Homo sapiens: one gene and its partners. The protein of the gene in region 1 purifies or fractionates together with the protein of each later gene. This does not show direct contact. Each region holds a gene or a part of one and is shown in the gene's direction. Other genes may lie near its edges.

Region 1 (3,652 bases):
TGGATGAACCTTGAAAACATGCTAAGAAGCCAGACACAAAATGCCACATACTGTGTAATTCCATTTATATGAAATGCCTAGAATAAGCAGGTCCATATAAAGGGAAATTAAGTTAGTGGCTGCTATGGACTGATGGAGGGAATAGTGAGTGACTGTTAATTGGTATGCATTTCTTTTTGGAGTGATGAAAGTGTCCTAGAATTAGATAGTGATGCTGCTTGTACAGCTTTATGAATATACTAAAAAACACTGAATTGTATACCTTAGAAGGGTGTTTTTTTGGTGCATGAATTATCAAAAGCTGTTTTTTAAAAAGTATGAGGAAAATAAATCAGTCAATGTCCAAATTTGCCTTTATTTTGAAAACAAAATAATCAAAAATTAGAAAAATTACCTCCTGAAATGTCTTTGAAATGTCCCAAGCGATAATGTGGGAGAGAAAGATAGACGCTAATCCTACACATTTAGGCCTAGTCCTCATTAAAAGGGGCTGAAGTATGGACGTCAAGTTCCCTGAGTCCAAAGCTGACTCCGGAGTTTCTCACATTTGTCTTCAAAGTTAAAAAAGCTTTTTATTTTTATTTTTTTTGTTTCTGACTTTTAAGTTCAGGGGTACATGTGCAGGATGTGCAAGTCTGTTACATAGGTCAACATGTGCCATGGTGGTTTGCATCCCATCACCTAGGTATTAAGCCCAGCATCGATTAGCTATTTTTCTTGATGCTCTCCCTCCTCCCACCCCCAACCCTATTGACAGGCCCCAGTGTGTGCTGTTCCCCACCATTGTGTCTATGTGTTCTCATTATTCAGCTTCCACTTACAGGTGAGAACAGGCAGTGTGTTTGGTTTTCTGTTCCTGTGTTAGTTTGCCGAGGATAATGGCTTCCAGCTCCATCCATGTCCTTGCAAAGGACATGATCTCGTTCCTTTTTATGGCTGCATAGTATTCCATGGTGTATGTGTACCACATTTTCTTTATCCAGTATATTCTTTGTTTATAATAAGTACAATTAAAAACAGGAAAGCACAGTATTCTTTATAATGCAAATTATGTCCAAAACTTAAATTGAGAGTCAATGCTTGTACAGTAACTTAACTTTTGTTAGTCTCACTGGATTACCTTGTTTTGGCCATATACTGAACATATGAGCAGATTATAAAGGAGGAGGGTGAATGAACTATTTTACACTTATGTTCCAAAAGGACATTTTCTGTTTTTAAAGGAAGGAGGGAGGGAGGCTGTGCAGTGTTTGAAAGAAGATGGGTTTGGAAGGTGGAAGACCCAAGTGGAGTCTTGCCTTTGTCACTACCTAACTTTATGACCTTGAACGGGTGACATAATTTTTGTGGATCTCAATTTCCTCACCTTTAAATTAGAACAGGAGCATTGCTGAAGGTCATTCAAGCTCTACAAGCTTTCAGTACCTACAATTTGAGGTCATATTTTAAAGAACAAGAATAACAAGTACCTTGTTCTTAAGCATCCCATCTCAGATTCAACAAAAGAGACAATAATAATCCAAGCCACATACAAGGCTTTTCATTAATTGAAGATTTCAAATCACTGTTGCAGGGAGTTAACTGTTATATTAAAAGATTTTATATGAAAGGTAAAAACAATAAAATCTATTAGCCTTCTAATGTGACATTGCTTTCAAATGTCCTAAATCTTGGTATGGTCAGTTTCAGCTATAGTTATAGAGAGCCAAATGTTTCCATAAACTCTTGGGTTATATGGAATAGAAGGAGCAGTATCTTCCTTTCATTGCTTAAAACAAACACAGATTACAGGCACTGAAATAGATCTCTATGTATGAAAATGCTGAGGCTGGATAATATTAACCAAAACCCAAGGAAACTTATTATAGTATTTTAAATTTCATGTACATGTGTACTCATTGGCTTAAGATAATTCCCACCCTAGGCGCAGGATGGGGAATTTTTATAGTAAATGCTTAAACTTTAGTCAAAACCTCAAGCTAATATCAGACAAAGGTGAATGTTAAGTCAGTAAATACACTGTTTTGTGCTTAAGAGGAAAGCTAAATATGGAGAGGGATGTGTAGTATTTGTGTCCCTGTGGAGAAAGAGTGTTGCAGGATTAGGAGGAGTTCAGTATGTGGTTAAATTGATTCAAGTTGACCCAGGAGGCTAGATGAATGCCAAGGTTGCCAGAGGGTTCAGATTAAAGTCAGATATCTTTAGACAGCACTTTTATTTGAAATTTGTTATGGTGCTTCAGTCTGAACTTCTGTTATCCATTTCACAGATCTTGACCGACCCAGTGAGGAAGTTTTCTCTAGAGATCTTTCAGATTTTCCATCTCTAGAAAATGGCATGGGAACAAATGATGAAGATGAATTAAGCCTTGGTTTGCCCACTGAGCTCAAGAGAAAGAAGGAACAGTTGGACAGTGGTCACAGACCAAGCAAAGAGACGCAATCAGCAGCTGGTCTCACCCTTCCTCTGAACAGTGACCAAACCTTTCACCTGATGAGCAACCTGGCTGGGGATGTTATCACAGCTGCAGTGACTGCAGCTATCAAAGACCAGTTAGAGGGTGTGCAGCAAGCACTTTCTCAGGCTGCCCCCATCCCAGAAGAGGACACAGACACTGAAGAAGGTGATGACTTTGAACTACTTGACCAGTCAGAGCTGGATCAAATTGAGAGTGAATTGGGACTTACACAAGACCAGGAAGCAGAAGCACAGCAAAATAAGAAGTCTTCAGGTTTCCTTTCAAATCTGCTGGGAGGCCATTAATCTAGGAATCAGCTTGCAACAGAGCACAAAAAACACCAAAAAAATTTCAAACAAGAAAAAAAAAAAAAAAAGGAAAAGAAAAAAATTGAACTGTAAGCTTTAATGATTACTTTAGATTTGTTTTATTTTCCCTCCTGCAGTGAATTAATTGGATATATATCAGCTGACACTGATAGATTGATATTTCTGATCGTTATTTTTGTGTAATAAGCATGGAAATGAACTTTATACACACCACTGTGTTGTCAGAGATAAATATTAGGGGTTGTTTTTAAAGCAAAAAGAAAAAAACAAAAACCAAACTATTAAAATCCTCCTATAAATATTCTTTTTCTTTACAGTTTTTCAAGCATGCAAAACAGTTTATTGTAACTTACTGAAAAATATTAACAATTAATTGTGAATACATGCTGTTACCAGCTTCCTTATTCCTAATACCTGGAAAATTTTTTTTTCAACGGATAGATTTTGATGTAAAAAAGACCGAAATTATCAAGGTATCTTAGTTGAAGGACTTGGGAAATACTATCAAAATTAATTTCTTAGGAAAAAATTTAAAAGTATATTTAAGTACTCTGGATAGACTGAAACGTTTCCATGTTATTTCTGCAGTTGTAGACTTAGGCTTATTTGTAAAGAAGCATGCTCCATTGACTGCCATCTCTAGTCTTGCAGTGGGTGGTATTAACCCATAGAAAGCAAGCAGTTGTGTATCACATAGACAATGGTTATGATGTAAACAGATTCAGTTGTTTTGTTGTTCATTCGTCATATGTTTGTGATAGGGATGTTGGGAGCACAGCTCTATTCTGCCTGCTCAGACTTAAGTTAGACCCTTATCTTTTATATTATGTCATGAAAAAAGTCTCCTAAAATTGTGAAACTAGTT
Region 2 (4,148 bases), on another chromosome or scaffold:
GATTACAGGCATGAGCCACTGCACCCGGACTTAAAGTGGTTTTTAAAAAGTGCCGTGTGAGACTTCCAAATAGTACTCACGGGGAGGGAAATGAAAGGAGAGGATTGGGGAAGAAACACCTTCTATTTTTTTTTTTTTTTTTTTTTTTTAGAGACAGGGTCTTGCTCTGTCACCCAGGCTGCAGCCTGGACCTCTTGGGCTCAAGGGATCCTCCCACCTTAGCCTCCTGTGTAGCTGGGACCACAGGCGTGCACCGCCACACCCAGCTAATTTTTTTTATTTTTTTGCAGAGATGGGGTCTCTCTATGTTGCCCAGGCTGGCCTCAAACTCCTGGGCTCAAGTGATCCTCCCTTCTCGGCCTCCCAAAGTACTGGGATTACAGGGGTGAGCCACCTCACCTGTACAGCTTCTTTGGAGAATGGGCCTGGGCAGGTCAAACAGGGGCCACTCTACACCATCATGGCACAGCAAGAGCTGGGCTATGTAGGTTCAGTATTCTTTGTCATTTAATCCTTGTGACGACCTCGTGTCATCATTGCTGTTTTACAGATAAGGAACTGAGGCTCAGAGAGGTTCAGTGTCACAGCTAGCATTTCACTTACATATCACAGAGCAAAGGCTCTCTTTGTCCAGAGACAACGTGCCTTTAGGTGATAGAGCTAGGACTGGAACCCAAGTCTATCTGACTCAAAGTCCACACAGCTTGTCCCCCATCCCGCAGGGACCTCTCCACGCTAGTGAGCCCCACGAAACCCCCTCAGTGCTTCGTTCCAGTCTTTTACCTTCAAGCCCAGTCAGCGAGTTCTTTATTTCCACAAATGGTGCTATTAAACTAATGGCTTCGGGAGCTATAGGCTGGCCTCGGCACAGTTACACATCTCTCCACCCACCATGTTCTGGCTTCCAAATAAATACATTGGAAATTCCAGGAGCCGAAGCCCATTTGGAAACGTTTCCGGGCCACCATTTTGCTTTGGGATGGGCAAGAAGAGACACCCTAAACTTGAACTCCTGTCTGTGCAGCCTCCAGCCGGCCAGGCGCTAAATAAGGCCACGGCCCGTTTCCTCCTTCAAAAGTCCCTTGTAAAGGGCGATAGCAGACCCCATCAGGCAAAAAGCTGAGAAGCCAGGGTTGAAATAGAGGCCTCTTTCTGTTTGGTCAATCAGCAGCTGCAAAGGATGCGTAGGATGGAGCTAAATTTATTTGTTCCTTTCTTTCTCAGCAACAGCGACGAGGCCCGAGGTGCAGCTGTCTCGCCTCGCCTGTCTTTTGCAGGCACCGGCATGCACAGAAGATGGCTCTCCGGGAGGAAGATTCCTTTCCATTTTGTTCTCTCTCTGCCTCCGCAAGGCTCGCAGCCACCTCTCGGGAGTGCAGGGCCAGATCCTGTGCCAGCGGGTAGGAATATGTAGCTGCCTCCCAGCCCCAGGGTGGAAATCATGACCTTTGAGAAGCAGGCAAGCTGCACGGCATAGATACTCAGGCCTGGTGAAGGCAAAGTGGGGCCACACCCTAGAAAAACCACAAAAGTCCCCACAGCCTCTGCTTTCACTAGTCAGACCTGTGGGAAACTTGTAAGACACAGTCCATGTGATCGGCGGGTGGGGGCATGTTGGGAGGGGCCTTCCGAAGGCCACAGCCAGGCTGGCAGGGCAGAGTCCTTTCCAGAATTTATCTGTTTGCTTAAAGCCCAGCGGAGGGGCCACCTTCAGTCAACCCTCCAGCATACTGGTCCAAGTAGTTTTTTCAAAGTGCTTTGTGAGACTTTCAAAAGGTACCCATGGGGAGGGAAGTGAGAGGAGGAGGAGGGGACGGTGAAGAAACAGCTTCTTTATTTCTAGCCTTGCTTGAATGGCTTCTTGACGGTTACTGCTCCAGTTTTGCTGAGTCAGAAGAATCCCACAGCCGCTCACCGGAAACACAGCTGTTGGGCAAAAATAACCACAGAGCTGAGCATCATGCACCTTCCAGAAAAGATGGCAGAAAACCTCAAAACAAAAGAGAAATACAAAACAATAGGAGACACTGTCAAGAAAAAAAAAACAAAAACAAAAACCACCGCAGCTCACTAACCGATCCAAGCTGGTGGCGCTCTCCTGATCTCTCTCCACTCCCAGGCCCAGCAACGGCTCTGAAATAAAGCTAAGTTTGGCTATATATATATATATATATATATATATATATATATATATATATATATATATATGTATGTATATGTATATATATATATTTAGATAGAGTCTTCCTCTGTCGCCCAGGCTGGAATGCAGTGGCGCGCTCTCGGCTCGCTGCAACCTCTGCCTCCTGGGTTCAAGTGATTCTCCTGCCTCAGCCTTCCGACTAGCTGGGATTACAGGTGCGCCACCACGCCCAGCTAATTTTTGTATTTTTAGTAGAGACGAGGTTTCGCCATGTTGGCCAGGCTGGTCTCGAACTCCTGACCTCAAGTGATCCGCCCACCTCGGCCTCCCAAAGTCTTGGGATTACAGGTGTGAACCATCACATCTGGCCTACTTTTACACTGTAGTGGGTTTAATAGTGTCTCCCCAGTCACACCTCCACCAAAAAAAGAAAAGATATGTCCACAGTCTAATGTGCTGCAGCACCTGTGAATGTGACCTTAATGGAGAAAGGATCTTTGCAGGTGTAAATTAATTTTAGGATCTCAAGATTGAATCATCCTAGACTACCTGGGTGGACCTCAAATCCAATGACAGGTATCCTTATAAAAGGAAGGCAGATCCAGCTTGGGCAACATAGGGAGACCCTGTTTCTACAAATAGTTTAAAAAAAAAAAAAGGCTGGGCATAGTGGCTTACACCTCTAATCCCAGCACCTTGGGAGTCCAAGGTGGGCAGGTCACTTGAGGCCAGGAGTTCAAGACCAGCTTGCCCAATATGGCTTAACCCCATCTCTACTAAAACTACAAAAATTAGCTGGGCATGGTAGTGTATGCCTGTAGTCCCCGCTACTTGGGAGGCTGAGACACAAGAATCACTTGAATCCGGGAAGCAGAGGTTGCAGTGAGCTGAGATTGTGCCACTGTACTCCAGCTTGGGCAACAGAGCACGACTCCATCTCAGAAAAAAAGCTGTGGGGGACAGTGGTGTGTGCCTGTGGTCCCAGCTACTTGTGAGGCTGAGACAGGAGGATCTCTTGAGCCCAGAAGTTCGAGGCTGCAGTGAGCTATGATGGCACCACTGTACTCCAGCCTGGGTGACCAAGTGAGACCCTGTCTCAAAATAAAAAAAAAAAAGTGTGGCAGAGGTAGATGGGTAGATTAGACACACAGAGAGGAAGTCCCAGAGGAACTTGGAAGTGAGGATTGGAGTTTTGCAGCTACAAACCAAGGATATTAGGGCACTCATAAGAAACTAACAGAGCCACCCCAGGCTTCTGTTTACCAGGTCCTCCCCTGGCCATCTCCTTCCCCTTGTCTGGGCTGAAAACATTCACAGCATCTTGTTTGCGTGGACACCGAGTTTCCCTTTCCCCAGACTTCATAACGATCAGGAAGCAGGATGGGGCCTTGAGGACTCCCGAGACTAAGGGAGGAGTCGAGGGTCCCTGGTTGTAGATAAGTCTTGGCCACAGGCCAGGAGTGTGACCTCATTAACCAGCAGCCATTAGCCATTCACTGAGGCAGCTGGATCCTGGTTCTGCCCCTTACTAGCTGTGTGGCCTGGGGTAAGGTATTTACCCTCCCTGGGCCTCTGTCTCCTCATCTGTCCAATGGAGATAATTAGAAAACTTCCCTTACACAGTTGTTGTAAGGATGGAGCAAGTACATGCAAAGCTGTTCTTGAACGAGGCTGGACTCTGTGCTTCTTATTGTCCAGTGCTTTACACAAGTGTAGTAAGGCTATTGTTTTTCCCTGTCAGCATCTATGACACTATCTTTTGCTTCAGCATCCTGGCTTGCCTTCGGGAGACCATCTCTCTTCCACCCCCTCATTCCAGGAGAGGGTATATCACCCAGACCTGACCAGTCAGACTCAGCTCAGTTCAGGGATGGGAATGTGATCCAAAGTGGGTCCATCAGAGCAAATAGTTGCCGAAACTCGTAGGGAAAAGAAATTCACTTTCTCTTGGTTCCACTATGTGGTGGGATATGAGCGTGGAGCATCTCTGCTGCTACCTAGGGAG
Region 3 (3,652 bases), on another chromosome or scaffold:
CACTTTGGCATTGTTCTTGACTGTGTTTCATTTTGAAGTTTTAAAGCTTCGTGCAACTGGTTTTACCCCTTCAATTTGAAAAGTTGTTTTAGAAATTGAAATAATTGTTGCTACATATTTCTTAGATATTTTCAAATGGTAAACACCTGCTTTATTTGTAGACAATACATTGAGATCAATGCTAAGGATGAGGAGGTTGATTTTTTTAACCTTATAATGTTTGTCTGATCTCTGGGTTCTAGAGGGTGTGGAAAAGGAAAGTGGTATAAATTTAATGACACAGTTATAGAAGAATTTGACCTAAATGACGAGACCCTGGAGTATGAATGCTTTGGAGGAGAATATAGACCAAAAGTTTATGATCAAAGTAAGTATTTACAAATGGATATTTTCCATTAGTTTTTTTATTTATCGTTTTCTATAAAAATTAATAGTATTCTTTATATAAAAACACAACAGATTTTGTTATTTTTATTGTACTACTGTTCTAGCAATAGAACCATGAGCAAGCTCTTTAATAACCAAAGTGAAAATGTTCAAGCTGTTTATAAAAATTTTTTTAAATAATTTCTTACAACAACCTTGAGGGATAGGTAGGGGAGCTGGGAGTAAGTTAAAAGGATGAAATGAGCATCAGAGAGAAAGTAATGAATACTGAAATTGAACCTTAAAAATAGTTTTGGAAGTAGTTATCCATTAAAATTTTCAGATTTCCTTTTCACTTATGTAGAGGTGTGACTAATTAGAGAAGACATTTCTAGCACCTGTGTTTTTAAAACCATATTTATTATGCAGTGTGGCAAAGCAGTCTTTCCCTCTACAATCCCCACTCCCAGGAAAAAAGAGTATGAGGAGAAGTACAGCCCAATCAGAACTTGCTATTTGATAAAAAGCTATTTGGTGGAGACCTTAGCATTTCAGAAACCTGATTTTGAAATCTTCTAGTGGTATTTCTAAATTTTTAGCTGTATTGGATTCACTGTATTAGATTTTGATACCATGCCATTATAGTTAAGCATCTTATGGTGGTAACCTTTAAGAGTTGGATATAGTATTGTCAGAATTTGCCTGGATTTGGCCGATCTTGGCAGAAATGGTTAAGTGAGGCCAGTTATCCCATCTTGTGCCACAGAACATATTTTTAAATGTCACTTGCTATTTGCTTACATTTAGACCTCCCTAGGATACTTACCTTCTTTCTCTTACTCCATTACCATACTGCTCCCTTATTCCTTGTCCCCACCTATATCACTTCCAAGTGAGAGATCCAGCTAGGCCCACAACTGAAGTATCCTGACTTCCATGCTAAGCAGTACTCTAAAGACACTCACATTTTACTTATACTTTGCATTTTACAAACTTAGGGAGTAGTTAACTACTTGCTGGAATAATGGGCCCTTTGTTTTAGATTGTCAAGACAAGAAAAACTTTTATTTACAGATGTGTTTCTTAATGTCTTGTTATAAAGCAAACCCATACACTGATGTGCGCCGAAGATACTGGAATGCCTATATGCTTTTCTACCAAAGGGTGTCTGATCAGAACTCCCCAGTATTACCAAAGAAAAGTCGAGTCAGCGTTGTACGGCAGGAAGCTGAGGATCTCTCTCTGTAAGTGTCTCTTCCATGTAATTTGCTGTGTGATTTCTATGGTGATGATGTGGTCTGTGACAATATACTATTTGAGATTTTAAAGATAATTAGCTAAGCTGGAGAGAAATTCTAAAAAGAATTCCAAAAAGAAAATAAATCCCTTATTGCTTCATGGTTATTTTCTTGGCAAGAAGTTGTTACATATTTAGAAACATGCACGTAAGTTATTTCATTCTAGAATTGAAGTGTTTTGTTTTTTGTTTTTTTGAGACAGTGTGGTCTCACTCTGTCACCCAGGCTGGAGTGCAGTGGCATGATCATAGCTCACTGCAGCCTCGACCTCCCAGGCTGAAGCGATCCTTCCACCTCAGCCTCTTGAATAGCTGGGACCACAGGCGAGGGGCACCAGGCCCAGATATTTGGTTTGTCTGTTTTTTGTAAAGATAAGGTCTCCCAATGTTGCCCAGGCTGGTCTGGAACTCCTGGGCTCAAGCAATACTCCCATCTAGGCCTCCCAAAGTGCTGGGATTATAGGCATAAGTCACCATACCTGGACTTTTTTTTTTTTTTTTTTTTAATGTTAGCAGCATTTGTTGAATACACTTTTTGTCCAAAGCATAATGCTATGCCAACACTGTCAGAATGTTGTTGTTTTTTAAAGGTCCTATTGTCAGTGAATTTGCCTTTTAATATATTGGGTCAGGAAAGTGTTTACTTTTTCATGTGAGAAATATGACTATATGTGTTTTATTAAATTTGAAAACTTGGTTCAATACTTTGTTCTTACACGACTTTGAGTGTGTGGCTCTAAGATAAGTTTATTTCACTGCTTTTTTAATGGCTGGGAAAGATATCTCACAATAATATGAAGGAAGAATTCATTTTGTGCTTAAATGTTAAATCTCATATGCCACTTAAGTAAAAATTTGTGTTAAATTTGCCCTGCACTATTTTATCTTCTATAATGTCAATCAGTTCTCCCAACTAATTAGAAAGTATTGCATTTTTAATTTCTTAATTGTTACATTATGATTGTATATATTTATGTGGTACAGTTTTATGTTTCGATACATGTATAATAATCAAATAGTCTAATACCCGTTTATGTGAATTTGGCAAGTCTTAGTAACTACTGAAAAAATAGCCACTTTATACTAGACAGAGTTTTCTGATTCTATCTCTTAGGTCAGCTCCATCTTCACCAGAAATTTCACCTCAGTCATCCCCTCGGCCCCATAGGCCGAACAATGACCGGCTGTCTATTCTTACCAAGCTGGTTAAAAAAGGCGAGAAGAAAGGACTGTTTGTGGAGAAAATGCCTGCTCGAATATACCAGGTAAGAACCATATAAAAAATTCTAAGGGGGAATATCCACGTGGACATCAAAATGTATCTAGTAGGTCCAGAAGTACTTCTGCTGGATTAGTTGTACCACTGGGGCTACATCGTCTTACACACTTGTCTCATGAACCTTTTATGCCACGACACAGAGGGGGCCATAGAGCTAGAGCCATGGAGTGCTAAGAACACAAGTATGAATACACACTCATGATTGGCAGGCACAATCACTGACCTGCTCTGTGAGTGTGAAATGTCACAAATAAACAGAGTTGTGGGGAGTGGGCAGTAAAGAAATCGTGTTGCTGAAATAAACTTATTTTGTCTGGAGAGAAAAACAAGTTAAGGTTCATAACCTTTGAGTGGGACTAATAAAACAATCATTGGCCATTATTTATTGAACACCTACTGTGTGCTACGTGCTTTAAGCACATCTTTAATTTGTAAAAGATTATTATGCAGTATCAGGTTTTATTCTCATTTTTTGGATGGAAAAACAGGTTCAGAAAAGAAGAAGTATGTGCCAGTGTCACAGGACAAGGATCTAAATTCAGAACTGTCTACTCAGTCCAGACTTTATACACTAATTAATCAAAAGCTCAGTAGCTAGAACAAGAGAATTTGAGAAAAATATCGAGTCTTACATTAAGAAAGAAAGAGAATTAAGCCATCTGACATAAAGGAAGCATGGAGTTGGTTGTGCTTGGGAGAGCTCTGTTTAT

Evidence for each region.
Region 2: the proteins of RETREG1 (region 1) and MAP1LC3B2 purify together in Homo sapiens (affinity purification with mass spectrometry; 3 studies listed by BioGRID and IntAct, with this or other methods). This does not show direct contact.
Region 3: the proteins of RETREG1 (region 1) and USP24 purify together in Homo sapiens (affinity purification with mass spectrometry, with the first as the bait; one study listed by BioGRID). This does not show direct contact.

Annotation. Positions count from the first base shown.
Region 1 is NC_000005.10:16,473,852-16,477,503, reverse strand, and holds part of RETREG1 (reticulophagy regulator 1), read left to right. Parts: intron 1-2,269; coding exon 2,270-2,763; 3' UTR 2,764-3,652. UniProt on the Homo sapiens protein: Endoplasmic reticulum (ER)-anchored autophagy regulator which mediates ER delivery into lysosomes through sequestration into autophagosomes.
Region 2 is NC_000012.12:116,558,034-116,562,181, forward strand, and holds the start of MAP1LC3B2 (microtubule-associated protein 1 light chain 3 beta 2), read left to right. Parts: upstream 1-1,347; 5' UTR 1,348-1,400; intron 1,401-4,148. UniProt on the Homo sapiens protein: Ubiquitin-like modifier involved in formation of autophagosomal vacuoles (autophagosomes).
Region 3 is NC_000001.11:55,093,213-55,096,864, reverse strand, and holds part of USP24 (ubiquitin carboxyl-terminal hydrolase 24), read left to right. Parts: intron 1-242; coding exon 243-367; intron 368-1,468; coding exon 1,469-1,610; intron 1,611-2,777; coding exon 2,778-2,928; intron 2,929-3,652. UniProt on the Homo sapiens protein: Ubiquitin-specific protease that regulates cell survival in various contexts through modulating the protein stability of some of its substrates including DDB2, MCL1 or TP53.